4 linked regions of the Homo sapiens genome follow. The protein of the gene in region 4 purifies or fractionates together with the protein of the main gene of each other region. This does not show direct contact. Each region holds a gene or a part of one and is shown on either strand. Other genes may lie near its edges. The genes, in order: NDUFAF1, SLC38A10, MACO1 and TMEM169.

Evidence for each region.
Region 1: the proteins of TMEM169 (region 4) and NDUFAF1 purify together in Homo sapiens (co-immunoprecipitation; 2 studies listed by BioGRID and IntAct, with this or other methods). This does not show direct contact.
Region 2: the proteins of TMEM169 (region 4) and SLC38A10 purify together in Homo sapiens (co-immunoprecipitation; 2 studies listed by BioGRID and IntAct, with this or other methods). This does not show direct contact.
Region 3: the proteins of TMEM169 (region 4) and MACO1 purify together in Homo sapiens (co-immunoprecipitation; 2 studies listed by BioGRID and IntAct, with this or other methods). This does not show direct contact.

Annotation. Positions count from the first base shown.
Region 1 is NC_000015.10:41,399,470-41,407,355, forward strand, and holds the start of NDUFAF1 (complex I intermediate-associated protein 30, mitochondrial precursor), read right to left. Parts: upstream 3,028-7,886; 5' UTR 2,675-3,027; intron 1-2,674. UniProt on the Homo sapiens protein: As part of the MCIA complex, involved in the assembly of the mitochondrial complex I.
Region 2 is NC_000017.11:81,292,282-81,299,325, reverse strand, and holds the start of SLC38A10 (solute carrier family 38 member 10), read left to right. Parts: upstream 1-4,018; 5' UTR 4,019-4,404; coding exon 4,405-4,503; intron 4,504-7,044. UniProt on the Homo sapiens protein: Facilitates bidirectional transport of amino acids. May act as a glutamate sensor that regulates glutamate-glutamine cycle and mTOR signaling in the brain. The transport mechanism remains to be elucidated.
Region 3 is NC_000001.11:25,482,878-25,489,908, forward strand, and holds part of MACO1 (macoilin), read left to right. Parts: intron 1-1,238; coding exon 1,239-1,397; intron 1,398-2,735; coding exon 2,736-2,918; intron 2,919-6,295; coding exon 6,296-6,416; intron 6,417-7,031. UniProt on the Homo sapiens protein: Plays a role in the regulation of neuronal activity.
Region 4 is NC_000002.12:216,098,894-216,103,289, reverse strand, and holds the end of TMEM169 (transmembrane protein 169), read right to left. Parts: intron 3,371-4,396; coding exon 2,748-3,370; 3' UTR 507-2,747; downstream 1-506.

The sequences.
Region 1 (7,886 bases), on a different chromosome or scaffold from region 4:
TCGCTTGAACCTGGGAGGCAGAGGCTGCAATGAGCCAAGACTGCACCATCGCACTCCAGCCTGGGCAACAAAAGTGAAACTCTGTCTCAAAAAAAAAAATACAGGCCGGGCGCGGTGGCTCACGCCTGTAATCCCAGCACTTTGGGAGGCGGAGGCGGGCGGATCACGAGGTCAGGAGATCGAGACCATCCCGGCTAAAACGGTGAAACCCCGTCTCTACTAAAAAAATACAAAAAATTAGCCGGGCGTAGTGGCGGGCGCCTGTAGTCCCAGCTACTCGGGAGGCTGAGGCAGGAGAATGGCGTGAACCCGGGAGGCGGAGCTTGCAGTGAGCCGAGATCCCGCCACTGCACTCCAGCCTGGGCGACAGAGCGAGACTCCTTCTCAAAAAAAAAAAAAAAAAAAAAAAAAATACAAAAATTAGCTGGGTGTGGTGACGGGCACCTATAGGGTGGTGGCAAGCACCTATAATCCCAGCTACTCGGGAGGCTGAAGCAGGAAAATCGCTTGAACCCAGGAGTGGGACGCTGCAGTGAGCCAAGATCAAGCCACTGCACTCCAGCTTGGGCAACAGAGCAGGACTCTGTCTAAAAAATAAATAAATAAAAATAAAAAATTGTAAGGCCAGGCGCAGTGGCTCACGCCTGTAATCCCAGCACTTTGGGAGGCCAAGGTGGGTGGATGACAAGGTCAGGAGTTTGAGGCCAGCCTGACCAACATGAAGAAACCCCATCTCTACTAAAAATACAAAATTAGCCCGGTGTGGTGGCGCACAACTGTAGTCCCAGCTACTTGGGAGGCTAAGGCAGGAGAATAGCTTGAACAGGAGGTGGAGGTTGTGGTGAGCCAAGATCACGCCATTGCACTCCAGCCTGGGCAACAAGAGCAAAATTCCATCTCAAAAAAAAAAAAAAAAAAATAGAGATGAGGTCTTGTTATGTTGCTCAGACGAGTCTCTAACTCCTGGGTTCAAGTGATCCTCCTGCCTCAGCCTCTGGAGTACCTGGGATTACAGGCGTGAGCCACTGCACCTGATGAATACCACTCCTAATACTTTTTTTTTTCTTTTTTGAGACAGAGTCTCACTCTGTCACCCAGGCTGGAGTGCAGTGGCACGATCTCGGCTCACTGCAAGCTCCGCCTCCCGGGTTCACGCCATTCTCCTGCCTCAGCCTCGCGAGTAGCTGGGACTACAGGCGCCCGCCACCATGCCCAGCTATTTTTTTTTTTTTTTTTTTTTTGGATTTTTAATAGAGACAGGGTTTCACCGTGTTAGCCAGGATGGTCTCGATCTCCTGACCACGTGATCCACCTGCCTTGTTCTCCCAAAGTACTGTGATTACAGGTGTGAGCCACCATGCCCAGCCTACTCCTAACACTTTCATATCACCCTGATATATATTATCTCATGCCATCCACACACAAATCCTATGAAACAAGTCAGATACGTATTTCCTTTCTGTAGGATACAGACACCAATAGGTAAAATGACATTATCAATACTTTTTTTTTTTTTTGAGACGGAGTCTTGCTCTGTCACCAGGCTAGAGATCTCCGCTCACTGCAATCTCCGCCTCCTGGGTTCAAGCGATTCTCTTGTCTCAGCCTCCTGAATAGCTGGGATTACAGGCGGGCGCCACCATGCCCGGCTAATTTTTGTTTTTGTTTTTGTTTTTTCAGTAGAGATGAGGTTCCACTATGTTGGCCAGAGTGGTCTCGAACTCCTGACCTCAGGTGATCCGCCTACATGGGCCTCCTAAAGTACTGGGATTACAGGCGTCAGCCACGGCGCCCAACCTTTTTTTTTTTTTTTTTTTTTGAGATGGAGTCTCGCTCTGTCACCCAGGCTGGAGTGCAATGGCACGACCCTGGCTCACTGCAACCTCCGCCTCCCGGGTTCAAGTGCTTCTCCTGCCTCTGCCTCCCGAGTGGCTGAAATTACAGGTGCCCGCCACCATGCCCAACTTTTTTTTTTTTTTTTTTAAGACAGAGTCCAGCTCTGTCCCCCAAGTTGGAGTGCAGTTGTGCGATCTCGGCTCATTGTAACCTCCACCTCCTGGTTTCAAGCAATTCTCTTGCCTCAGTCACTGGGATTACAGGCGTGCGCCACCACGCCCAGCTAATTTTTGTATTTTTAGTAGAGACAGGGTTTCACCATGTTGGCCAGGCTGGTCTCGAACTCCTGACCTCAAGTGATCCGCCCGCCTCGGCCTCCCAAAGTGCTGGGATTACAGGCGTGAGCCACCGCGCCCAGCCGACATTATCAATAAGGTTTGTTGATAAATCAAAACCATGTAAACAGTATGTTTTCACATGTATTATAAACGTTAAGGGAACCAGGAAAAATTAACAGTTGATCTGAGGTCCCGGAATTATGGATAATATTTAAATTCCCCCGCGCCGGTTGCACTTAAATGATTTTACCTCTACACATACCGAAATTTGAGAAACAAATGATAGCTCATAAAATGTTTTCCAAACCCTCCGTAGTGTTACTTCTCTAATAATATAACTTTAATTATAAATGCTTTGTTTCATTTTTTTTTTTCTACCAGTAAACAGAAAATCTAAACTATTAACTGGACAATACCGCCCTGAGGTTGACGGTGGGTTTTGACAACACAATCCACGCAGCTAGAAGTGAGTAGAATTAGTAAAGCTATCCATGCCTTACCATGTGCCAGAAACTGCTCTAAGTGTTTCACTGACGGCTCACAACAATCCTGAGAGAGGTACTATTATTATTTCAATTATAGAGACGAAGAAACTGACGTTCCAAGGCTAATTTACCCGAGGTCACACAGGTAGTGAGTGGCAAAATTCTTCCGCCTTGGCGTATACCTCCCGCACTCACGGCCTGGCCTCCGGAGGCTAGACGGTTCGCCGCGCTGGGGAGGCCCCCTCAACCCTCAAGTGCCAGGGCTCTGTCGCCTCCCCACACCCGGGACACACCAACCGCCGGCCTGCCGCCGCTTACCTCCCCGAGCCTATAGTGTACCTTCCGCCCAGAAGCCACTTTACCCGTATAGGTCCATCTGCTTTTCCCTTCCGATGCCAAACAAGGCGTCAGAACACCAAAGTTCCGGCCGAGTACAGAAGCCCAGGAAGGACAGCAAGGACCCCGTAGCCCAGCCAACTGAGGTTTTTGGAGGTTTTTGGTCCACTTGGTCGCCAGTTGTAAGGAAGCAGTGAGAATTCAGATAAGTTTTTCGCCTCTCCTTCCTGTATCCTTTCAGGCGGCAAACTCCATCCCTGCGTCTTTTTTTTTTTTTTTTTTTTTGAGACGGATTCTCGCTCTGTCGCCCAGGCTGGAGTGCAGTGGCGCGATCTCGGCTCACTACAACCTCTGCCTCCCAGATTCAAGCGATTCTCCTGCCTCAGCCTCCCGAGTAGCTGGGATTACAGGTGCGCGCCATCATGCCCGACTAATTTTTGTATTTTTAGTAGAGACGGGGTTTCACCATGTTAGCCGGGATGATCTCGATCTCCTGACCTCGTGATCCACCCGCCTCGGCCTCCCAAAGTGCTGAGATTACAGGCGCGAGCCACCAAGCCCGGCCCCCTGCGTCTTTCAAATAGAACCCAGTTATTGCTAACGCGCCTGTATCCCTTCCTTCCTTATCTGTCGCCTCGGTCCCCACAAGAACTGCCTGAGGCCTCAAAAGGCCGATTCTGCTGGAATTGCCCCCATGAATTCTTGAGGACCACCACGCACCTGGACAGCAGCCCCTCCTACCAGCCCTTCCCGAGTCTCGCCCCACACGGTCGCCAGTTGCTCAGGGCATCTGTTTGTACCTTGTGCACACCTCTCTTAAAGCACTTTTTTTTTTTGAGACGGAGTCTCACTCTGTTGCCCAGGCTGTAGTGCAGTGGCGCGATCTGCAACCTCCGACTCCTGGGTTGGAGCAATTCTCCTGCCTCAGCCTCCCAAGTAGCTGGGATTACAGGTGTGTGCCACCACACCCGGATAATTTTTGTATTTTTAGTAGAGATGGGGTTTCGCCATGTTGGCCAGGCTGGTCTCGAAATCCTGACCTCATGATCCACCCACCTCGGCCTCCCAAAGTGCTGGTATTACAGGCGTGAGCCACCATGCCCGGCCAAAGCACTTAAACATTGTTTGTTTTTGTTTTTTTTTCTTACTGCCAGGGAAGACAGAATCAACATTGTATCTTTCACTCACTTCTCACTTCCTTTGCCACGCTGTGAGCTTTCTTGGGTCCAGACTGCGCTGTTTTTCCTTTCCCCAGAATGTACCATAGCGGCGGGAATTTAGTGCTTAGTGTGAATTTGAGAGCATATAGTTCCGTAACACCTTTGTTCTCTAAGGTTCCGAAGGAGCTCACTAAATACACTAGCCCTTTCCATGTTTTCTCCTTCACTAGTTTCCGCGCCGCCTCCTCTTCCTCAAATTCGGCTTGGCTTCTCTAGACTCTACACTTGCCCCCTCAAACCTTACCTTTCTGCCCCCATCACTGACTCTTCTATTCTCTTCCCACAACCTTTAATGCGGGCTGTCTCTCCATGGCCCATCCTGCCTCTACCTCTTTTCTAGTTTCAAATATAAGTTATCGGCCGGGCGCGGTGGTTCACGCCTGTAATCCCAGCACTTTGGGAGGCCGAGGCGGGCGGATCACAAGGTCAGGAGATCGAGACCATCCTGGCTAACACGGTGAAACCCCGTCTCTACTAAAAATACAAAAAAATTGGCCGGGCGTGCTGGCGGGCGCCTGTAGTCCCAGCTACTCAGGAGACTGAGGCAGGAGAATGGCGTGAACCCGGGAGACGGAGCTTGCAGTGAGCCGAGATCGCACCACTGCACTCCAGCCTGGGCCACAGAGCCAGACTCCGTCTCAGAAAAAGAAAAAATCGAAATGTCTTTTTGTTGTTGTTTTTTAGGAAATATCCTTGAGCAATAAAGAAAACTAAATGTCTAAAACTAAATGTGTCATTTTTCCTCCTACTAATTCCTCCTGTCTCCCTATTTCTGTAAATGGCCACATCCTTCTAGGATGGAAATGCTTGACTGTCCTTGGCTCCTCTCCTTAAAATCTTCTCTTACTGATTTTAAATCCTGTTGCATTCTCTTGCTGTTTTTGATCTTTGATCTTTTCACACCTTCTTTCCAAGCCCACTGACACGTTTCTTGTTTTTTTGGTTTTTAAAATATAGTAGCCATCCTAATGAGTGTGAAGTGGTATCTCATTTTGGTTTTGATTTGCATGTCTCTAATCATTAGTTGTTTGCTGCTTTTTTTTTTTTGAACCACAGTCTTCCTCACCCAGGCTGGAGTGCAGTGGCGTGATCTCGGCTCACTGCAACCCCCGCCTCCCGGGTTCAAGTGATTCTCCTGCCTCAGCCTCCTGAGTAGCTGGGATTAGAGGTGCATGCCACCACACCCAGCTGATTATTGTATTTTTAGCAGAGTCAGGGTTTCGTCATGTTGGCCAGGCTGGTCTCCAACTCCTGACCTCAGTTGATCCACCCACCTCGGCCATCCAAGGTGCTGGGATTACAGGCGTGAGCCACTGTGCCAGGCTGTTTGCTTAAGTATAGGAAGCCCCATATGTATTTATTACCAGTGGAGAAAGGAAGGCTGGAAGAAAGAAAAAAATATTCAAATAGAAAGGAAGGACATGACAATGCCAGGCAGAAGAAAAGGTAGAGTCACTAGGGGAAGGAAATATAGGAAATAAAGGAAGGAAATAAAGGCAAAGAGCTGAGGGGAAATGATTATGTAGGTTAACCCAACCATGTCTGTAGCACCTTCTTCCTTGGCCTCCCAGACAGTGGTAGTGGGCTCCACCAAATCTTAACTATACCTTTGTTCACAACAAAACTGAAACCCAGCCAGGCAGGGTAGCTCACACCTGTAATGCCAGCACTTTGGGAGGCCTAGTCGGGTGAATCACCTGAGATCAGGAGTTCGAGACCAGCCTGGCCAACATGGTAAAACCCTGTCTCTACTAAAAATACAAAAATTAGCCAGGGGTGGTGGCGAGCACCCGTAATCCCAGCTACTCGGGAGGCTGAGGCAGGAGAATGGCTTGAACCTGGGAGGCAGAGGTTGCAGTAAGCTGAGATCTTGCCATTGCACTCCAGCCTGGGCGACAAGAGTGAAACTCTGCCTCAAAAAAGAAAACAACAACAACAACAACAACTGAAACCCATCCAAATTAGACATGGAGACAACAGGGGACCATCTATCTATTTGTGGACATAAGGCTGACAAATGCCATAAATGATAATATGACAAAGGGAACAAAGTGAGGGAAACTAAGAGCAGGCAACTACAAAGAGAAGCCCCTGCCTAAAAGGAAATGAACAGTAAGAGCATCATTCAGAAGCCTGGGACCAGAGGACATTGAAGCTGTTCTGAATCCGAATATGAATGGGTGAAGCCCTGTAGTCCCCTATATTGCAGGCAGTGACAAAAGAGGCAGAAGTGTTGTTCAGCCCTGGCCAACCTTAGAAGGTAGCAGGATCATTTTTTGTTTGTGTGTTTGCTTGTTTTGAGATGGAGTTTTCCTCGTGTTGTCTAGGCTGGAGTGCAATGGCGCAATCTCAGTTCACTGCAACCTCCACCTCTCGGGTTCAAGCGAATCTCCTGTCTGAGCCTCCCGAGTAGCTGGGATTATAGGTGCATGCCACCATGCCTGCCTAATTTTTGTATTTTTAGTAGAGACGAGGTTTCATAATATTGGTCAGGCTAGTCTGCAACTCCTGACCTCAGGTGATCCACCCGCCTCAGCCTCCCAAAGTGCTGGGATCACAAGCGTGAGCCACCGCGCCCGGCCTGTTTTTGTTGTTTGGAGACGGAGTCTTGCTCTGTCACCCAGGCCAAGGTGCAGCAGCCCAATCTTGGCTCACTGCAACCTCTGCCTCCCAGGTTCAAGCGATTCTCCTGCCTCAGCCTCCTGAGTAGCTGGGACTACAGGGGTGCGCCACCACGCCCAGCTAAGTTTTGTTGTTTTAGTAGAGACAGGGTTTCGCCATGTTGGCCAGGCTGGTCTCCAACACCTGACTTCAAGTGATCCACCCACCTTGGCCTCCCAAAGTGCTGGTATTACAGGCATGAGTCACTGCGCCTGGCCAGGAGGGTATTTTTTTGTTTGTTTGTTTGAGACCGAATCTCACTCTGATGCCCAAGCTGGAGTGCAGTGGCGTGATCTCAGCTCACTGCAACCTCCACCTCCCGGGTTCAAGCGATTCTCCTGTCTTGCCCTCCTAAGTAGCTGAGACTACAGGTGCATGCCACCACACCCAGCTGATTTTTTTTTTTTGGTAGAGACAGGGTTTCACCATGTTAGCCAGGATGGTCTCGATCTCCTGTCCTCGTGATCCACCCGCCCCGGCCTCCCAAAGTGCTGGGATTACAGGCGTGAGCCACCGTGCCCAGCCAGGAGAGCTTTTTCTTTAATTTTTTTTTAAGCTGCTGAGTTTGTGTTAAGCAGGATCCTAATGTCATTTCCAATCAGTATTAAATCAAATAATATATGTAAAATATTTGCATAATTATTGGAATTATTTGGTAAATGTACAAAAAAGCTAGCTATTATTGCTGAACTATAGGACAGTGTTCAACAGGTACACAGTCCAATAGAGGGCATGTCATCAAACAAATAACTGCAGCACAGTTAGAAACTATAGCAGAGGGAGGTATTAGGTACAAGACTGGCCCAAAGAAGGGTGTAATGAGTGCTTCTAGGCTAGACATTGAGTTTAACACTTCTCAGGCATTTTCTCTTTTCATTGTCAGAACAATTCTGTGAAGTAGGTACTCATATTACACCTATTTCCCAGGTAAGAAAACAGATGTTAAGTAACATGCTAGTCACATGCTTATCACAGCTGTTGAAGTAGCAGAGCTGGGATTCAAACCACGT
Region 2 (7,044 bases), on a different chromosome or scaffold from region 4:
GTAAGCATTTCACAGAAGAAAAATGGACAATAAAAATATGAATAAATAATTCACCTAATTTGTAATAAGAACAAATTAGAGCCACAAAGAGATTCCATTTCATTCACCGGACTGGCCAAACTGACAATAACCAAATGTTGGAGCAGAGGCCCACAAGCTAAGCCCTGAGGCCGCACTGGGCCAGCTGCTGTTTTTGTAAATAAAGTTTTATTGGAACACAGAGATGCCCACTTGTTTACATATTGTCTCTGGCTGCTTCTGATCTGCCATGGCAGAACTGAATATTTGTGAGACCATTTGGCACTGCGAGAGACTAATGACACAACTGAATATTTGCGAGAGACCATTAGGCCCGCAAAGCAAAAAATATTTACTGTCTGACTCTTAATAGAAAGTTTGCCAACCTTTGCTGTAAACCAGGAAGAGCTCTTATAGCTACTTTGAAGAGCAATTTGGCAAGATCTAGTAAAGTCATTTAGGTATGCATACGCATACTCTGCAGTTCCACTTGTAGGTGTTTACCCTAGAGAGACTTGAACAAACACACGTTCAGGAGACAAATCTGTTCACTGGATCACTGTCTCTGAGGCAAGTGACTGGACACAACTCAGGTGCCCTCGGCAGGAGAATGGATGCGGATCTGGGCTATTTAAGTAACGGAGTTCCACAGAGCAGCAAGAATGAGACTCAGAGCACATGCAACATGATGGCAATTCTTGTGAACAAAGTTGAACTGGCCGGGTGTGGTGGCTCATGCCTGTAATCCCAGCTCTCAGGGAGGCAGAGGCAGGAAGACGGCTTGAGCCCAGGAGTTCGAGACCTGCCTGGGCAATACAGTGAGACCCCGTTCTCCACAAAAAGGAAAAAAAAAAGACAAAAAAAGAAATTTAAGTGTGACAAAGTTGAGTGAAAAAGAAAGTTGCAGAATAGCACATATATGTAATTCAATTCTTACAATAGTCCAAAATGCAAAGGTGCCCCATCCCAATACACTACTGAACTAGGTAGGCTACAGCTTTGGGTTCATGAAACAGAGTCCAAAATCATGGTGAGCGCAAGGAGCAGGTTTGTCTCTCCCTCCCAGAGCAGCTGGGAGGAGGTAGTCGTGGATGGGCATGGTGGCTTGGCTCCATGAGTTGTCCAGGGATCCAGGATCCTTCTAGCTTGGTGCTCCACTCTGCCACGGTATCACCCTTGTCTGCACTGTCCGAGATGGCTTCCTACCATCGTGTCTAGGTTCCAAACAGCATGATGAAGGAGCGGCAGACCCCCTCCTAAGAAATGACCTAGAAGTTTCTCCTGTCATTTCTGCTTCTTATTGTCCAAAACTTGGTCACATAGCCAGCCCTACCTGCAAGGGACACTGGCAAGTGTATTCTTTTTTTTTTTTTTTGAGACGGAGTCTCACTCTGTCGCCAGGCTGGAGTGCTGTGGCGCGATCTCGGCTCACTGCAACCTCCGACTCCCTGGTTCAAGCGATTCTCCTGCCTCAGCCTCCTGAGTGGCTGGGATTACAGGCACACACCATCACGCCCGGCTAATTTTTGTATTTTTAGTAGACAGAGTTTCACCATATTGGCCAGGATGGTCTCGATCTCCTGACCTCGTGATCCACCCACCTTGGCCTCCCAAAGTGCTGGGATTACAGGCGTGTGCCACCGCGCCCAGTCTTTTATTTATTTTTTTGAGACAAAGTCTTGCCCTGTTGCCCAGGCTGGAGTGCAATGGCACGCTCTTGGCTCACGGCAACCTCTGCCTCCCGGGTTCAAGCGATTCTCCTGGCTCAGCCTCCCAAGAACCTGGGATTACAGGTGCGCGCCACCACGCCTGGCTAATTTTTTGTATCTTTAGCAGAGATGGGGTTTCACCATGTTTGCCAGGCTGGCCTCAAATTCCTGACCTCGTGATCTGCCTGCCTCGGCCTCTCAAAGTGCTGGGATTACAGGTGTGAGCCGCCATGCTCGGCTGGAAGTGTATTTTTTATCCTAGGCAGTCATACGTGCAGGCCAATTCCTATTAATTTGGAAAATGGAATAAACGAATATTAAGAGACAGAGAGTCAGCTGGGCGCAGTGGCTCACGCCTGTAATCCCAGCACTTTGGGAGGCCGAGGTGAGCAGATCGATTGAACCCAGGAGTTTGAGACCAGCCTGGACAACATGACAAAATCCCATCTCTACAAAAAAAGTGAAAATTAGCTGGGCATGGTGGCACACACCTGTAGTTTCAGCTACTGAGGGCCTGAAGTGGGAGGATCACTTTAGCCCAGGAGGGAAAGGCTGAAGCAAGCTGAGATTGTGCCACTGCACTCCAGACTGGGTGACAGAGTGAGACTCTGTCTCAAAAAAAAAAAAAAAAGAGACAAATAGTCTTCCCCATAATTGTTTAGGGATATATCCATATATGGTAAACCTTTAAAGAAAAGTAATGAATTGATGGAATCTGGATTGTGATGTCTCAGGATAGCAGGGAAGAGGGGAAGAAGGTGCTGGAACTGGGGAGGAACTGAAAGGGAGGATCTAAGTCTTCGGTAATATTTTGTTCTTAAAGCTCAATAGCGGGTCCATGGTATTTGCTATTTGTGAAAACATACATGTAAATTGCCCAGCCTACCTCGCATGCATAACATTTGATGAAAATTACATAATAAAAAGGAGGTTATGGAATGTGTATGCCATTTCATTTATATAAAAGTAAATGGGCTGGGTGCGGTGGCTCATGCCTGTAATACCAGCACTTTGGGAGGCCGAGGTGGGCGGATCACCTGAGGTCGGGAGTTTGAGGCAAGCCTGGCCACCATGGTGAAACCTGGTCTCTACTAAAAATACAAAAATTAGCCGGGTGTGGTGGCGGGAGCCTGTAATTCCAGCTACTTGGGAGGCTGAGGCATGAGAATAGCTTGAACCTGGGAGGTGGAGGTTGCAGTGAGCCAAGATCACACCACTGCATATACAGCCTGGGCGACAGAGCAAGACTCTGACTGAAGAAAAAAAAAAAAAAGAACGCAGGCATTTGTTATTTTGCCTGCGTATTTAATTAGTCTTTACCCAGGCATTTCCTCCTGTTCTCCTGAAGGTGGGGCACAGCCTTACTTGGTGGCTGCACTGCCAGTGCCTGAGGAACGGGCCTCTGTTCTAAGACACCTGGTCCTGCAGGTGCTGCAGACACGGCCTCCTTTCCTCCGCCGTCCTCCCCCAGCAGCCTGGAATCACTTGCTGCTTCCCAGCCATTCGGTCTACGCGCTCATTCATTAGACTCAGAGTGAGCAGCTAGGTGCCAGGAATCCACAGATCTATCGGGACCCTTCTCTGTTCTCTCCTCTCCCCGGTCTCCATTTCTACCCGAGGAATTCTCATTTGTCCTTCAAGCTCCAGCCTAGAAGCCACCTCCTTCTGGAAGCCCTCCCGGGTTTCCCTGTTCATGTAAGCCTCCACCTCTCCTGTCCCCTCCAGGAATGTCCCTTGCTCTTTTCGTGTGAAAAGGTGAAGTTCAACATTGCCACTGATCTGGGCGCAGTTCGGCAGGGCACCGCCTCCCCTTGGAGCTGTGTGGCCTTAGCGGAGTGGCCGAGCCTCTCTGTGCCCAGCGTTTCATTCCTACCTCCTAGGTGCTAATTCCTCACAACAGACTATTTTTCGGCTGAGGCAGTCAGGGCCCCCGCCCCCGTGCCCTGGCGCCAAGCACTCGCCCCAGAATCGGTCCTGGGAATAAAGGTCAAAAAGGAACCCTTAAACCCGCTCCTCCCCGGAAGGCACAGCGCCTCCCCTTCTCTCCAGCCCGCGACTGCCCATCCAAACCGAGGCCTCGCGGGGCGAGTCCCTTGTCCTCCAGCTCGTTGAACTGGGGCCCCGGGCACAGGTCGGCTGGACCAGCTTGGCGAACCGGACAGCTGCGAGACCCTCAGGTGCCCACCGGCCCAGTTTCCGCCCGCCCCTCCGGGCCCGCCTCTCATTGGCTCGCGTCCCACCAAACCCTACCCCCTGGCCGTCACTTCCGGGCAACGGAGCCCGTGGAAGGCGGAAGTGTGAGCGCCGCGGCGGCAGCTGAGTTGGGCTGAGGTGTCCCTAGCTGGCTCTGCGGCTCTTCCGGGTCTGGGCTCGGAGATTCACAGGCGGCCCGCGAGGCCGAGCGAGGGACGCATGGCCCTGAGGCGGCCGCAGGGCTTGGCGGGGTCCGGAGGTTGACCTCGCCCCCGCAGCCGGCCTTCGAGGCTGCCTCCTCCAGGCAGCCTCTGGGGCCCGCGCCCGCGCCTGCTCAGGCTCCCGTGTTCAGGCTGCCCATCCCCTCCCCACCGGCGTCCCGGACGTTGGGACCTGTGACCGTGGCCTCGGGCTGGGCTTCCAAAGCCGGCCGCAGCCCGGCGACCCCCGAGGCCTCTCGCCCCGGGCCCCTAGACCTCTCACTATGACCGCGGCCGCCGCCTCCAACTGGGGGCTGATCACGAACATCGTGAACAGCATCGTAGGGGTCAGTGTCCTCACCATGCCCTTCTGCTTCAAACAGGTGAGTCCGGTGGGCCCGGAGATCACCGCCCTCGCCTCCCCCGCAGAGGGGGCGTCTGGCTGGGTCGTCCTGGTTAAAGTTCCCGCCGGGGCAGGGCTTCGCTGGGCGGGTGCAGGCGGCCGCGGGCGGGGCGACCCTCTGGGTCCCGGCGCAGTTCCCGTAGAGAATCCGTGGATGAGAAGCGCACGGCGTTGGCCCTGGCAGCCCTTGTCAGCCCGGGCCGGAAAGTTCCCCACACTCAAAAACTCGATACCGAAGCAAAGTGTAACAAAGCAAAATGATCCTCCAGAATCGGAAGGGAACGGTGGGACTCCGTATTTTTACATTTTATCGTGTTTTTAAAAACTCTGACCCAACTGCACCTGTCTTCAGAAGCACACAACTCACCACTCCCAGGCTTCGACACTAGATAGGGACCTTGGTTGCAAGGTGATTAAAAACATCCACCAGGTTATACACCTAAGATCTGCGTTTCACAAAAACCGCACATTTGGCAGGGGGTGGTGGCTCACACCTGTAATCCCAGCACTTTGGGAGGCCGAGGCGAGTGGATCACCTGAGGTCAGGAGTTCGAGAACTGCCTGACCAACATGCTGAAACCCCATCTCTACTGAAAATACAAAAATTAGCCGGGGGTGGTGGCACATGCCTGTAATCCCAGATACTTGGGAGGCTGAGACAGGAGAATAGCTTGAACCTGGGAGGCGAAGGTTTCAATGAGCCGAAGGTTGCAGTGAGCCGAGATCACGCCATTGCACTCCAGCCTGGGCGACAGAGGGAGACTCCGTCTCAAAAACAAAAACAAAAAACTGCACATTTGATCTAATGTGTGCAGACGTTACCACAGTTGGAAAAAATCTCAAATACAAAAAGTTTAGCGTCATTCCAGCATTGAATAACACATGAAAGAAAATGGCCATTTCTAAGTGTCATCTGTTTAATCTACAATAAACAAGCATTTAGTGCTTTGGAAAAGAAAGGCTGACTGAAACGTTACCAAGTAGGTAGAAAAATGAAAACAACATGTATATTTTGAAACAAAGTGGCACCAGTAGTTTAATTTTAGATTAGCTTAGCAAACACTGTGTTTTTCATATTCATTATCTTTGGAATAAAAATATCCAAAAAATTTTTTCAGCCTGGGCAACATAGTAAGACCCCGTCTCTACAAAAAAAATTAAAAGTTAGCTGGGCATGGTGGTGCATACCTGTAGTCTCAGCTGCTCGGGAGGCTGAGGCAGAAGGATCACTTGAGCCCAGGAGTTTGAGATTACAGTGAGCTATGATTGCACCACTGCACTCCAGCCTGGGCAACACAACAGTACCCCATCTCTAAAAAAAAAACAACTTTTTTTTGATCAAGGAATTTTCAAACCCTCCCGTGCAGCCCTCCAGGCTGTTGTGTCTGAGTTGTTTGCCTGATATGGTTGGTGAGCCTGTCAGGGGAAGACAGGGCTACATGCCTCCAGAGCCCCCCGGGCAGCATCTGGTCTGGGCGTGGAGAATCCCAGCTTTCTGCCAGCCACCTCTGGGTGTTTCTGGACTGACTCCATGTCCCAGTGTCCACTGTGACTTGCCTGGCAGCAGAACTGCATTCTGGCATGTGGAGCAGTAGCTGGTCCTTCTCCTGCAAGTCAAAGACTGTTATCTTTGTTTTTTCAAGACGGAGTCTCGCTCTGTCACCCAGGCTGGAGTGCAGTGGTGCAGTCTCGGCTCACTGCAACCTCTGCCTCCAGGGTTCGAGTGATTCTCCTGCCTCAGCCTCCCAAGTAGCTGGGATTACAGGCATGTGCCACCACGCCGGCTAATTTATTTATTTATTTATTTATTTATTTGTATTTAGTAGAGACAGGGTTTCCCCATGTTGGTCAGGCTGGTCTCGAACTCCTGATCTCAGGTGATCCACCCACCTCGGCCTCCCAAAGTGCTAGGATTACAGGCGTGAGCCACCGTGCCTGGCCCCAAATGCTGTCATCTTTGATGCCTGTCGGTGAAGTGCCACCGTGGAAGGGGCTCTGGTTTAGACACCTGTGAAAGTACATCTTAGGGCCCAGACGATCCAGCTATCTCGAGCCTTGGACCACCTGCCATGTGGTGGACATTAGGCCCCTGCCAGAGCATGTGCTGATTAGCCGGGCATCTGCACAGACCTGTCAGGAAGTGAAGGACTAGAGACGTCCTTCTGAGTCCTGAGGGCTGCCCAGAGGGAGGCCCAGTTGCTCTGATCTGGCCGCAGCGTCTCCTCCACGGCAGCCTTCTTGGACTGGGGCGCAGGGAGACGCCAGCAGGCGATTTGGGGATGTGTGTGTTTAGTGTTTGGCAGCCTTGGCATTGAAAAACTTTGGATTAGTGTTTTTTTTTTTGTTTTAGTAGTTTTGATATATTTATATATATACATAGCTGGGCGTGTTGGCTCACGCCTGTAATCCCAGCACTTTTGGAGGCTGAGGAGGGTGGATCACGAGGTCAGGAGTTCAAGACCAGCCTGGCCAAGATGATAAAACCCCATCTCTACTAAAAATACAGAAATTAGCTGTGCGC
Region 3 (7,031 bases), on a different chromosome or scaffold from region 4:
TCTCATTAAATAGTAGCTGTTGTTATTATTCCTTCTGGCATATATTTAATCATGGCCTTCCTTGTCTTATTGTTTAATCATTTAAATTATGTATTTCTTGGTTCCTATTTCTTTGTTCCTAATTGTGAAGTTTTCCCATGAAGAAAGAGACTTGATTTTATAGTTTTCGTTTGTTTGTTTTTTGTTTTTTGAGACAGAGTCTCACTCTTGTCACCCAGGCTGGAGTGCAGTGGCATGATCTCAGCTCACTGCAACCTCCACCTCCTGGGTTCAAGTGATTCTCCTGCCTCAGCCTCCTGAGTAGCTGGGATTACAGGCACGCGCCACCATGCCCAGCTAATTTTTGTACTTTTAGTAGAGATGGGGTTTCACCACGTTGGCCAGGCCGGTCTTGAACTCCTGACCTCAGGTGATCCGCCTGCCTCGGGCTCCCAAAGTGCTGGGATTACAGGCATGAGCCACTGCGCCTGGCCGATAGTTTTTGTTGACCATTTTCAGCACTACATATGCATAGTAGGTCTCCAATACCTGTCACTTAAAGTGAAACTATTACTGCAGTAAAGAAAATAGATGGAACAAGAGTAAGGAATTGACGAGAAAAGATAGGCTTCATTTTACAGATGGAGTTCTCTTATGATTCTTAGAGCATGTAATTTGTTCCTTTTTTCATTGTTATTGAGTCTCGTGAGCTCTTCTGCCGCAATCACCAGAGTTGTGAACGTCATTCAGCAAGGATGCTGCAATTTCTGGAGGTCGTCGCAGACCGTTTTCTTCTAGGCCCATGGTGGGACGCAGTCTCAGACAGTAGATTCTGATTTATCAAAATATCACAAAGCATTAAGTGGTAGGTCATGTGCTAGTTGTTTGAACATATTTCCCTTGCTGAGGGCATGAAAAGCCACCAGAAGGGAGCCTTTAGTCTTCAGCCACCCTCTCTGCTGTCCCTTTCTCCTTTATCAGCAGCTCGGATGGATATTCACAAGCACCATACTCACCTGTCACTATTCATAAACAGGGGGAAGTTGAAAGTTACACCCCAGTAGGAAGAGGTAGGGACCCAGGTGGAATCATTCAACAAAATTAACCCAGTTGCAGACAGGAGTCCTCATCATGGCAGGAACTGCCAGCGGGGTCCTTTTTCTGCCATTCACCCAGCAGTCCAGGACCCCCACCAGGTCCCTCCCAGCTCTGTGGGTGCCCTCACCTAGATGAAAATGCTGCATTTCTCATTCTCCTAGGCTGGAACAAGACATTAAAAAGTTAAAGGCTGACCTGCAAGCCAGCAGACAAGTGGAACAAGAGCTCCGCAGTCAGATCAGCTCCCTTTCGAGCACCGAGCGAGGGATCCGCTCAGAAATGGGCCAGCTTCGGCAGGAGAACGAGCTGCTGCAGAACAAGTACGTGCACCTTTCAGGCCTTTGGCCGTAAGCCCGGCAGCTTCACTGCTTCTCCTGTTGCCAGGGGTTGGAGCACAAGATTTATGGTGACAGAGACCTGCTGAGAGGTTTTTAAATAAAATGTTTAAAATACTTTATTTAGTACCAGATATTCAACATGTTTATAAAATCTATAAAAACTTATTTCATTGCCACAAAACAGTTTATTAATATTACTGTTTTTGTCTTCTCTCATTTAATAACTTCTTAGTTTAAAATAGTTATTGAGTTTTTGGATAGTAAAATTGACAAGAAGTAGTTCTGTCACATTTTGAAAATTTTGCTCCTTTGAGTGAAAATTTCTAGAGGATTTGACTATATTTACTTTTATTTCCAGAACTAAAAGATGACATTGAACTTTGATTTTATTTGAAAAGGCAGGCAGAAAGCCAGGTCTTCTGTGTGAATTCATTTAGGCTTTTGATTAGTTCATTCTGGAATTACTTCTTAACTCAGTGTAGGTCTGTCCTTTTTTCTTTTTTTAAATCTCCCAGCAATGTGTGCCCGTGGTAGTGATGATCATTACAGGCTGTTGGCTTTCTGGGCTTTCCCTGTTGAAAGAGGAGTTCAACATTTTTAAGGAATGTAACTCAAAAGCTAGGGCATTACAGGCAAATAACCTCTCCATTGCCTCTGACCAGCATTTGTGGTGGTTCTAGCATTGATATGTAGAGAACATCCCAGTGATAAACTCACCTCATGCTGATAGGTAAAGCTGGGGGTGGTAGTAAGCAGGAAATATGGCTGAAATTTCTATCTGAAATTAAGCATCCTGTGACTCTAAAAGAGGATTTGGGGACACTGTGAGCAAACATCCTGAGCTGGAAAGGAAAAGCTGTAGTAGGCTACAGCAAAATTGTATTCAGGAAAAATAAAAACCTTCCCCTTTCCACCCCTTACCTTAGTTTCACTGGGGCTGGTCCCATCAGTGGTTCTTTGGTGGGACTGAAGTTCTTTCAGGGTGCTCTGGAACATTAGAATTAGTTCTACAATTATCTTCCCCTCTGTTCAAAATTTGTTTTACCCTGTTTTCTGGATGACCTTTTGTAGATCACTTACTTGAACAGAGCAGAGGCTAGGTCTTAATCTCTGTTTTGTAAGGCAGCTTGTTTATTGGTGTTTAGGAATTATTAAAGAATAACAGTGTGTTTTCCTCAGGCATTCTGGGCATTGACATTTTTGATTTGCTGTTCAAACCTCCTGTTTAATTGGCCTTAAGGTGATAAAGAGATGTTTCTCAAGGGTTTATAGTGGGCATTTGTAATTTTAAGACTTTATATGACAATCATTTCCATATAGGTTACATAATGCTGTGCAAATGAAGCAAAAAGACAAGCAGAATATCAGCCAGTTGGAGAAAAAGCTAAAAGCTGAGCAGGAAGCCCGAAGTTTTGTAGAGAAACAGTTAATGGAAGAGAAAAAGAGGAAGAAGTTAGAAGAAGCCACTGCTGCCCGGGCTGTTGCGTTTGCTGCTGCATCTAGGTATGTCCATGTCACCTGAGTGTTTAATCCAAGGTTGGCTTTCCTTTACCAACAAAGACATGGGAATTTGGTGCCTTGGGCAGGATTGGACGTACAGCAATCATGCACGGATGGATTGCTTTTAAGTACTGTTTTATTAACTGGTTTAAACTCCATGTGTGCAAGCTTGCACTATCTTATAACAGCTTTATCCCTCAGTGACCTCATCTATAAAGTGGGATGAGGGAATCACCATGTTTCCCATACCTGGGAGGCAAAGTACTGCTCATAAAAAGGTTTCCAGTCACTTTTTGTCAGACTGATGATTACTAAATGCATTGAGAGATTCTATCTGGAAGTTCGTTCCCTTTAGAGAGCTATCATTACTCTCCACTCTTAGGTATATGTGTTTCTGAAGTTTTTATCTTAAAATGGAAGAAAGATAAAATCTTGGTTGCCCAAGCACTGTGTACTGGCTGCTCAAATGGATATCAGCAAACTGTCAAATGAAATGGAAAAAAAAAGTGAAACATAAGTCTCTACTAGATGGAATTACATTTATGGCATAATGAAAATTGGGGACTACCTCCTATACCACTGGAAAGTACCCCTGTGTGCAAGTATTCCAAAAACTATTAGATAGTTAAGAGCTTTTTTTTTCTTTTTGCTTCTACTTCACTTATCACTTTTTCCTTTGTTTTCTTGACTAGTGAAGTCCCTCTGCATGTGGGAATCAGTTAGGTGTTTGCAGATATAGAGCGAGGGTAAATTATTATTTATTTCACTTTTAAATTCCATCCTAATTTGTATCTACGTGGTATAATTCAACTGTAATTTTTCCTTGAATTTTGCTTTGTCGTAATTAAAGTTAAGTAATTTAACTTTTGGCATGTTGATAGCCTTCTTTGTGGGTTCTGGCATTTGCAGAATAATTGGTGAATCATTTCACCTTTTAGGAAATAACAGCAAGTGAGAACTCTCTCCTGTGTGATCCTGCCTCCCCCCAGCAGATGGCTGAGCTGGCTTGGCCCATCAGCATCTATACAGACTTACAAGGCCCTTGACTAGCCTGCCTACAATGTGGGATTGTTTGTTTGTTTGAAGATGTATTTGCATTCTGAAGCACTTAAACTTGCAGGAGATGTTCTTGAACAGTCATCTAGTGATGACTGCTCTCCTCTCTCCTCAATTCATACAGCACCTGCCCTTTCTGAAAAATTCCACTCAGGAGGACATAGCAGTTCCTTAACGATATTGCTTAGTGTCTCCCATGCCTGAGAATCAGTAAGTTGATTTCAGTGTCTACCCCAAATCCCTTTTGCTTCCAGTTAAGCTTATTTATCTTATCCCTGGATAGTCCTTGTTTTTCATAACTTATTCTTTTTTTCCTTCTTTTTGAGACGGAGTCTAACTCTGTCACCCAGGCTGGAGTGCAGTGGCGCGATCTCAGCTCACTGCAGCCTTTGCCACCCAGGTTCAAGCGATTCTCCTGCCTCAGCCTCCCAAGTAGCTGGGATTACAGGCTCCTGCCACCGTGCCCAGCAACTTTTTGTATTTTTAGTAGAGACGAGGTTTCACCATCTTGGCAGGCTGGTCTCGAACTCCTGACCTCAGGTGATCTGCCCACCTTGACCTCCCAAAGTGCTGGGATTACAGGCGTGAGCCACCACACCAGGCCTGCCATAATTTATTCAGTAAATCTCAGGGCATAAATCTCTGACTGGACCTTCCGTTTTGGTAGGCAGAGAACACCTACTTTCTTCATTGGGCTGTTTCTGGAACCTAGACAGTACCAGCTTTGGACTGGCCATTGCCATCATCTCTTTTAGCTCAACCTTATGATAGCCCTGAGAAGCAGCTCAACAGTGTGCCCTTATTTTTCTGTTTACTCCAGTCTTGTGGCAACTTTATGACAAGAAAGACAAAAGTCCCAATGCGTAGCCCCTCAAAAGTGGGGGGAAAATTTTTTTCTAGTTCACCGCCCCCTGCTGGACATAGTACATGTTCAGTTCTATCTGGCTTTGTGTGTATTGTCTCAAGTCTCATGGCCTGGTGGGAAGTTTGCTGGATTGGGAAGCCAGAAAATCTCAGTTCTTATCCCTATTCTAAGACCTAAAAGCTAGGTAACCTTGAACTAGTATTTTATCTATGTAGCCTCAGTTTTCTTATCTGGAAAATGGGATAAATATACCCTAGGTTGTTATAAGGATTGAAGAAGGTAGTATGGGTAAAGTACCTTAGTGTCTGGCTCATCTAGACACTCAGTAATAATTATTGTATATATGTATGTATTTTGAGACAGGATATCATTCTGTCACCCAGACTGGAGTGCAATGGTGCAGTCATAGCTTACTATAACCTGAAACTCCTGGGCTCAAGTTGTCCTCTTGCCTCAGCCTCCTGAGTAGCTGGGACTACAGGCATGTGCTACTATGCCCAGCTATTTTTTAAATTTTTTGTAGAGACAGGGTCTCTCTGTGTTGCCCAGGCTGATCTCAGACTCTGGGCTCAAGCAGTCCTCCCACCTTGGCCTTGGGAGTGCTGGGATTACGGGCATGAGCCACCATGCCCAGCCCAGTTATTTTAGAGTATTATTGAAATTATCAAAGGACACAGAGAACTGAGCAGACTGAGCCAAAAGCTAAAACCTGACAGACCCTGGAGTATAAAAGAAATTAAAAGAAATATAAATCCCACAATACAAGTAAACCTATAGTCTTTTTTTTTTCTTTTTTTTGAGACAGAGTCTCACTTTGTCACCCAGGCTAACGTGCTGTGACACCATCTCAGCTCAGTGCAGCCTCTGCCTCCCAGGTACAAGCAATTCTCCTGCCTCGGCCTCCCGAGTAGCTGGGATTACAGATGTGTGCCACTACACCCAGCTAATTTTTGTAGAGAGAGGGTTTCACTGTGTTGGCCAGGCTGGTCTTGAACTCCTGACCTCAAGTGATCCACCTGCCTTGGCCTCCCAAATTGCTGTGATTACAGGCGTGAGCCACTGCACTCGGCCAACCTATAGTCTTTTTTAAAATTTTATTTATTTATTTATTTATTTGTTTTTGAGATGGAGTCTCACTCGGACGCCCAAGCTGGAGTGCAGTGGCACGATCTGGACTCGCTGCAACCTCCACCTCCTGGGTTCAAGCAATTCTTCTGCCTCAGCCTCCCCAGTAGCTGGGACTACAGGCATGTACCACCATGCCCAGCCAATTTTTTTTGTATTTTTAGTAGAGACGGGGTTTCACCATGCTGGTCAGGTTGGTCTCGAACCCCTGACCTCAAATAATCTGCCTGCCTCGGCCTCCCAAAGTGCTGGGATTACAGGCCTGAGTCACAGGGCCCAGCCCCAACCTATAGTCTTTTAAATCACTTTATTTCCTTCTCTTCTTTTTCAAAAGGGGAGAATGCACCGAAACCTTACGGAATCGGATCAGAGAACTAGAAGCAGAGGGCAAGAAGCTCACGATGGACATGAAGGTGAAAGAAGACCAAATCAGAGAACTAGAACTAAAAGTCCAGGTAAGGGGGGAACAAAAGACTTCCCTTGTATTTGAATTCCACTTTTATGCTAAACTTGTGCTCTGTGTTGCAGTGTAGAGATGATGCCTTTTAATATAGATCAAATCTCATTGCATCTGAAAAATCTCTATGTGACAAAAAGATTTGAAGTTCTAATCTTGTCCAGCTCATTTCAAGTCATATTAATGTAGCCAGATTCTAATACAAACCAGAAATGTTGACAATCCCTTGGTATGTTTTATACCAGGATTTAACTTGCTGTAGATTCATTTAACTTTTTCAGGTTATAGGCCAGATTAGTGTCCTTTGAAACTTACACACCTCCTTTTAGCCCCAACCCTCTTTCTATTGCCAGGGGACTGACCCTCCTGCATGGCTCTGAGCCTTGCAGATTGTTGTTCATAGCAGTGAATGATAGGAAAGGTGCTAGTGCTATGGACGTAGCCTGTTTTATGGGCTGTGTATACTTTAGCCAAATATTTGTCATTTAAACTAATGTCATATATTGTAAAGTTACAGTAATTTGAGCCAGGTGGGACAAGTGAAAAATTACTGTCAAGTCAGTGGACTAGAATGATGGCCTGGAGTACAGTACCGAAAAAAATACGAAAAAAA
Region 4 (4,396 bases):
TTTGCTGAGAGCAAAAATGAGATGCTTTGGTTCTGTTTGGTTCTGTTTTTCCTTCCTCTAGTCTAGGCTTTTACATACCTCTATAGAACCCCTTTGAAATGGTTTTAATTTACAAGCCTATTTCTTCCACTAGATGATGAGCCCAACTAGGATGAAGGCCATGTCAACTTTATCTAGGTATCTCTTGGGTATGATCTCATCATCATCCCACACTCTTCCATGGCACCACAGCCACTTTACCTGTGTCCTAATCACAACTTTTTGGCTTTTCCCATTGGTTTCCCCAACCCCAGAAAAATGGGACAAATGTGGTTGCAAGTTTCTAGTGTGGTTTGTGAAAACAGTCCACCTAAATAGAATTCCCCAAAATTAGTGAAGCATGGAAAGAGTCCAGACACAAGGATTCATATTAAAATCATTACATACATATAGGACAGCCATCATGCTCACCCTTTTTCTGCAAACCATAGCATTCAAAGCAATTTTGAAGAGCCTCAAAGACAAAATGAGCAAAAGTTAATCAGACTTTATTTTTATTTTCTTTGTCTTCATTTAATTGTTCATATCTCTGCTAATGCACCATAGAGCACCAAGATTAACACTAAAACTGTTGGGCACTTTTTTTTTCTTGTCAAGCTAATAATAGTTATTTAAAAAAAAAAAAAAGAGAGAGTTCCTCTGAAGGTGGAGCTCAGCACCATACATCAGGCAAATGTCCTGGGCTCTCTGTGGGGAGCATGACAAACTCCTCTGGTTTGATTCATCGCAGCAGTTCTCTCAACAGCTTTGTTTTGAGACATGAACAAGAAAAGAGCACCAGCTATTCTTATAAGGACCCAAATCTCCAAATTCTGCTGACCTCTTAGGAGTTGATATTTTGAAATTAGAAGGACACCCTTAGGAGTGATTTTTTTTTTTAAGTTCAGAGTCTGTTAATCTGTATTAATCTAGTTTACACTCCCTACAGGCCAGGTAGACACAAGTTTCTCAGCACAGCAAAGATCATGTCTGTGGTTAAACTCAGAAAGGTCTGAGGGAGTAAAGCTCTGAGTGAGGTTTTGCCAAACAACAGAAGGCTAAATCTGGCTTCTTTGTACTTAGGGCTACTGATCGCTGTTGGAGGAAACTTTGGCAGATGCAATTCCTCCCTTCCTGGTCTTTAATCTAGGTTAAATATCACCACCTCGTCCCACCTCCACCACCAGGACAAAGAGTTATGCTACTATTATAAATTGTACTCTCCTGTCCACTATTCCTTTCCAAAAACAAATCACATGACATTACAGAAGCTTAATTGCAAAGTACGTGAGGTGCTAATATCGATGTATAGCATATTCAAAGTATATGTAGCTAATATCTATATATAAATTCTCTGTGTAAGATTCAGGCCTAAATAAATAAATGAATAAACAAATGAATGAATAAATAAATAAATAAAACCATATTAGCAGTTTGGGGGTTCTGAATGTATTTAAATGATCATTGTGAGGCAAAGATTCTGACTTGCCTACCAAGATAACCATTCTTGCCTACAATCCCAGCATTTTGGGAGGCCGAGGCAGGCGGATCACCTGAGGTCAGGAGTTCAAGACCAGCCTGGGCACATGGTGAAACCCCATCTCTACTAAAAAAAAAATACAAAAATTAGCCGGGTATGGTGGCACGCACCTGTAATCCCAGCTACTGGGGAGGCCAAGGCACAAGAATTGCTTGAACCCAGGAGGCGAAGGTTGCAGTGAGCCGAGATAGTGCCACTGCACTCCAGCCTCGGCAACAGAGTGAGACTCCGTCTCTAAAGCGAAACAAAACAAAACAAAACAAAACCCAAATAACCATTCTTCCTTTTTCTTGCCAATTAGCGTGAACCCAGTATTTAGCTGAGAATATAGCTACCCAGCCAAACAACTACATTTCCAGCCTCTTTTGCTCATGACATCATGTGACTGAGGTCTTGCCAATGAGATATAAGAAGAATCGAGTGGGACTTCTGGGAAGTCTCCTTGAACAGGAAGGGTGTGTGCTTCTCTGCCCTTTCCTCTATTTTATCAGAAACATGGATGTGATGGCTGAAGATGTAATCAGCACTGGGATGTTGGGGATAAGGGTGAGAAGGGTCACATCCTACTAATGGTAGAGAAATAGAAGAAGCCTGGGACCTGGATTACTTCACAGGGTCCCAGGATGGTCTGCCTCCAGACTTCTTCTGCACAAGAAAGAAATACACTTCTATCTTGTTTAAGCCACTGATATTTTAGGGTTTTAATTCTATGCAGCTAAATCTAAATCTAAATGATACACACAAATCTTTACCTTCTGCTACACTGTGGTAGTCCAGCTTCCTAAATGTCTCACTCCATCCCTGTCTATTATCTTGGTGGATTTGGTTACCCCGAGGTTCTTTATTCTCCCTGACACATTTAGTCACATACTCCCCTCAGTTCCAGGCACCAGTAACACTTCCAGGCTCCCAAAACGACACACAGCAGAGTTCCATTGTCCTAAATAAATGGTGATTTTAGGGCAGGGAATCAAAAAGAGTTTGTCCATTGGGTGAACTGCTTTGGCACAATTGCTTGTCTGCTCCATGCCCTCCTGGAACCCTCAAGATGGTAAAACTGATCAGTATGGACTCTGATTTCCCAGAAGAACTGCGGAGAGTAGGGGGTAATTTAAAGAAATAATCTGCTGGAATTTTAAGATGATATATAGGCTACTGGGGCCAGAGGAGGGAGTAAGTTGTTGGGAGTTTAGACCGTGGAGGTTTCTACTTCTTGGATGGGGTCCTTGTTGGAGAGAGTGCTTGAGATATTGTCGGATTCAAGCAACTCCACAATGCTGTAGGGAGAACAGTCCTCCAGACCCAGCTTGCTGCAGAGCCAGCCACAGAAGCCTTTCTCCATGTCCCGGGCAGCTTGCCACCATGCTTCCCAGGACCACGAGAGCTGGACCACAGCAGCGTAGAGGCCGAGGGAAGAAGCCATGGCCATGATGAGCACTGGATAGAAGAGAACGAGGCAAGGGCAATACGAGATCTTGTGCCAGAAGGTCCTTTCCTCATTATACACGAGGAAGATGTTGTACCAGGTGATAGTGCCGTAGTAGAAAGAGACAACAAAAGAAAGGATGAAAACCACAGGCAGGCAGATCAGCGTCCAGAGGACCACATGGGGCCCACGGTCAGCTCCCATCTGGCAGGCCATTCTTCCTTCAGGCGTCGTTTCCCTTGATGACTCTTTAGGTTTGGTCAGTTCCTGCAGCTCTTTCTCTGTCAATGTGACATGGATGTCCACCATCTGACCCTTTTTCTTCCCTCGTGTGATGGTCCCAGTTAAGGTGACGTAGCGGCTGTCCAGAGGCAGGTTCCACATATCTGCAGGGTACAAAGGAGGTGAGAGTCAAGATCAGAAGAGTGGGCATTGCATCTCCATGTTGCACCCTCCCAGGCTGGGCATGAGGACAAGAGTAGCCTTTTTTACACCATCTGGCACAGTCCTGAGTCAGTGATTCAATGGCGGACTGAGTGGGTCTCCCTCGGGAGAGTGACCACTGGTGTTATTGCTCCCACATGAACTCTCAGTCCTTGTGCCTGGGCCCTGATAAAATTGTGAGGCAGGTTAAGCTTTTCACCTACTCTCTCCGCTTTTTGGGGCCTCAATCTTGGCACAATCTCTGTGGCACGGAGGAGTGTGACGAACTTTGATACAGACATGATGCAAATGATGATCCTATTTCTAGGTAACAAGTGCTGTGAAGATACTGGACTGATGGACGGCCACCACCTTCCCTTCTCATGCCTAGTTCTGTGCTTTCTGAGAGGGGGCCCCTCACATGCCTGATCCAGCCCTCACATCCAGGGGCTGCACGCATACACACATGCATCCCACATATACCATACACATACACCCTCTCACATACTACATACACACCATACACACACATACACATGCCACCTCCCAATCACGTACCACATACACACACTACACTATCCCATACACACACCACACACCACACACCATGCACATCACACATACCACATACACACCACATACCCACACCACATATACCAAACACCATACATAACACATACACCACACACATGCCACACACAACCTCCCCACACATACCACATACAACACATACACATACCATATACACACCACATACCCATACATATCACACATACATGCAACATACACACATAACACACCACACACACACATACACATCACACACACCACACATACACACAGCATACATGCACACAAATGCTGCCCCCCACACATTCCACATATATACACTACACATACCCACCCACATGCCGTATGCACACACCACATATATACACATTCTACACACACACCACATACCCATACATACCACACTACACATACCACAT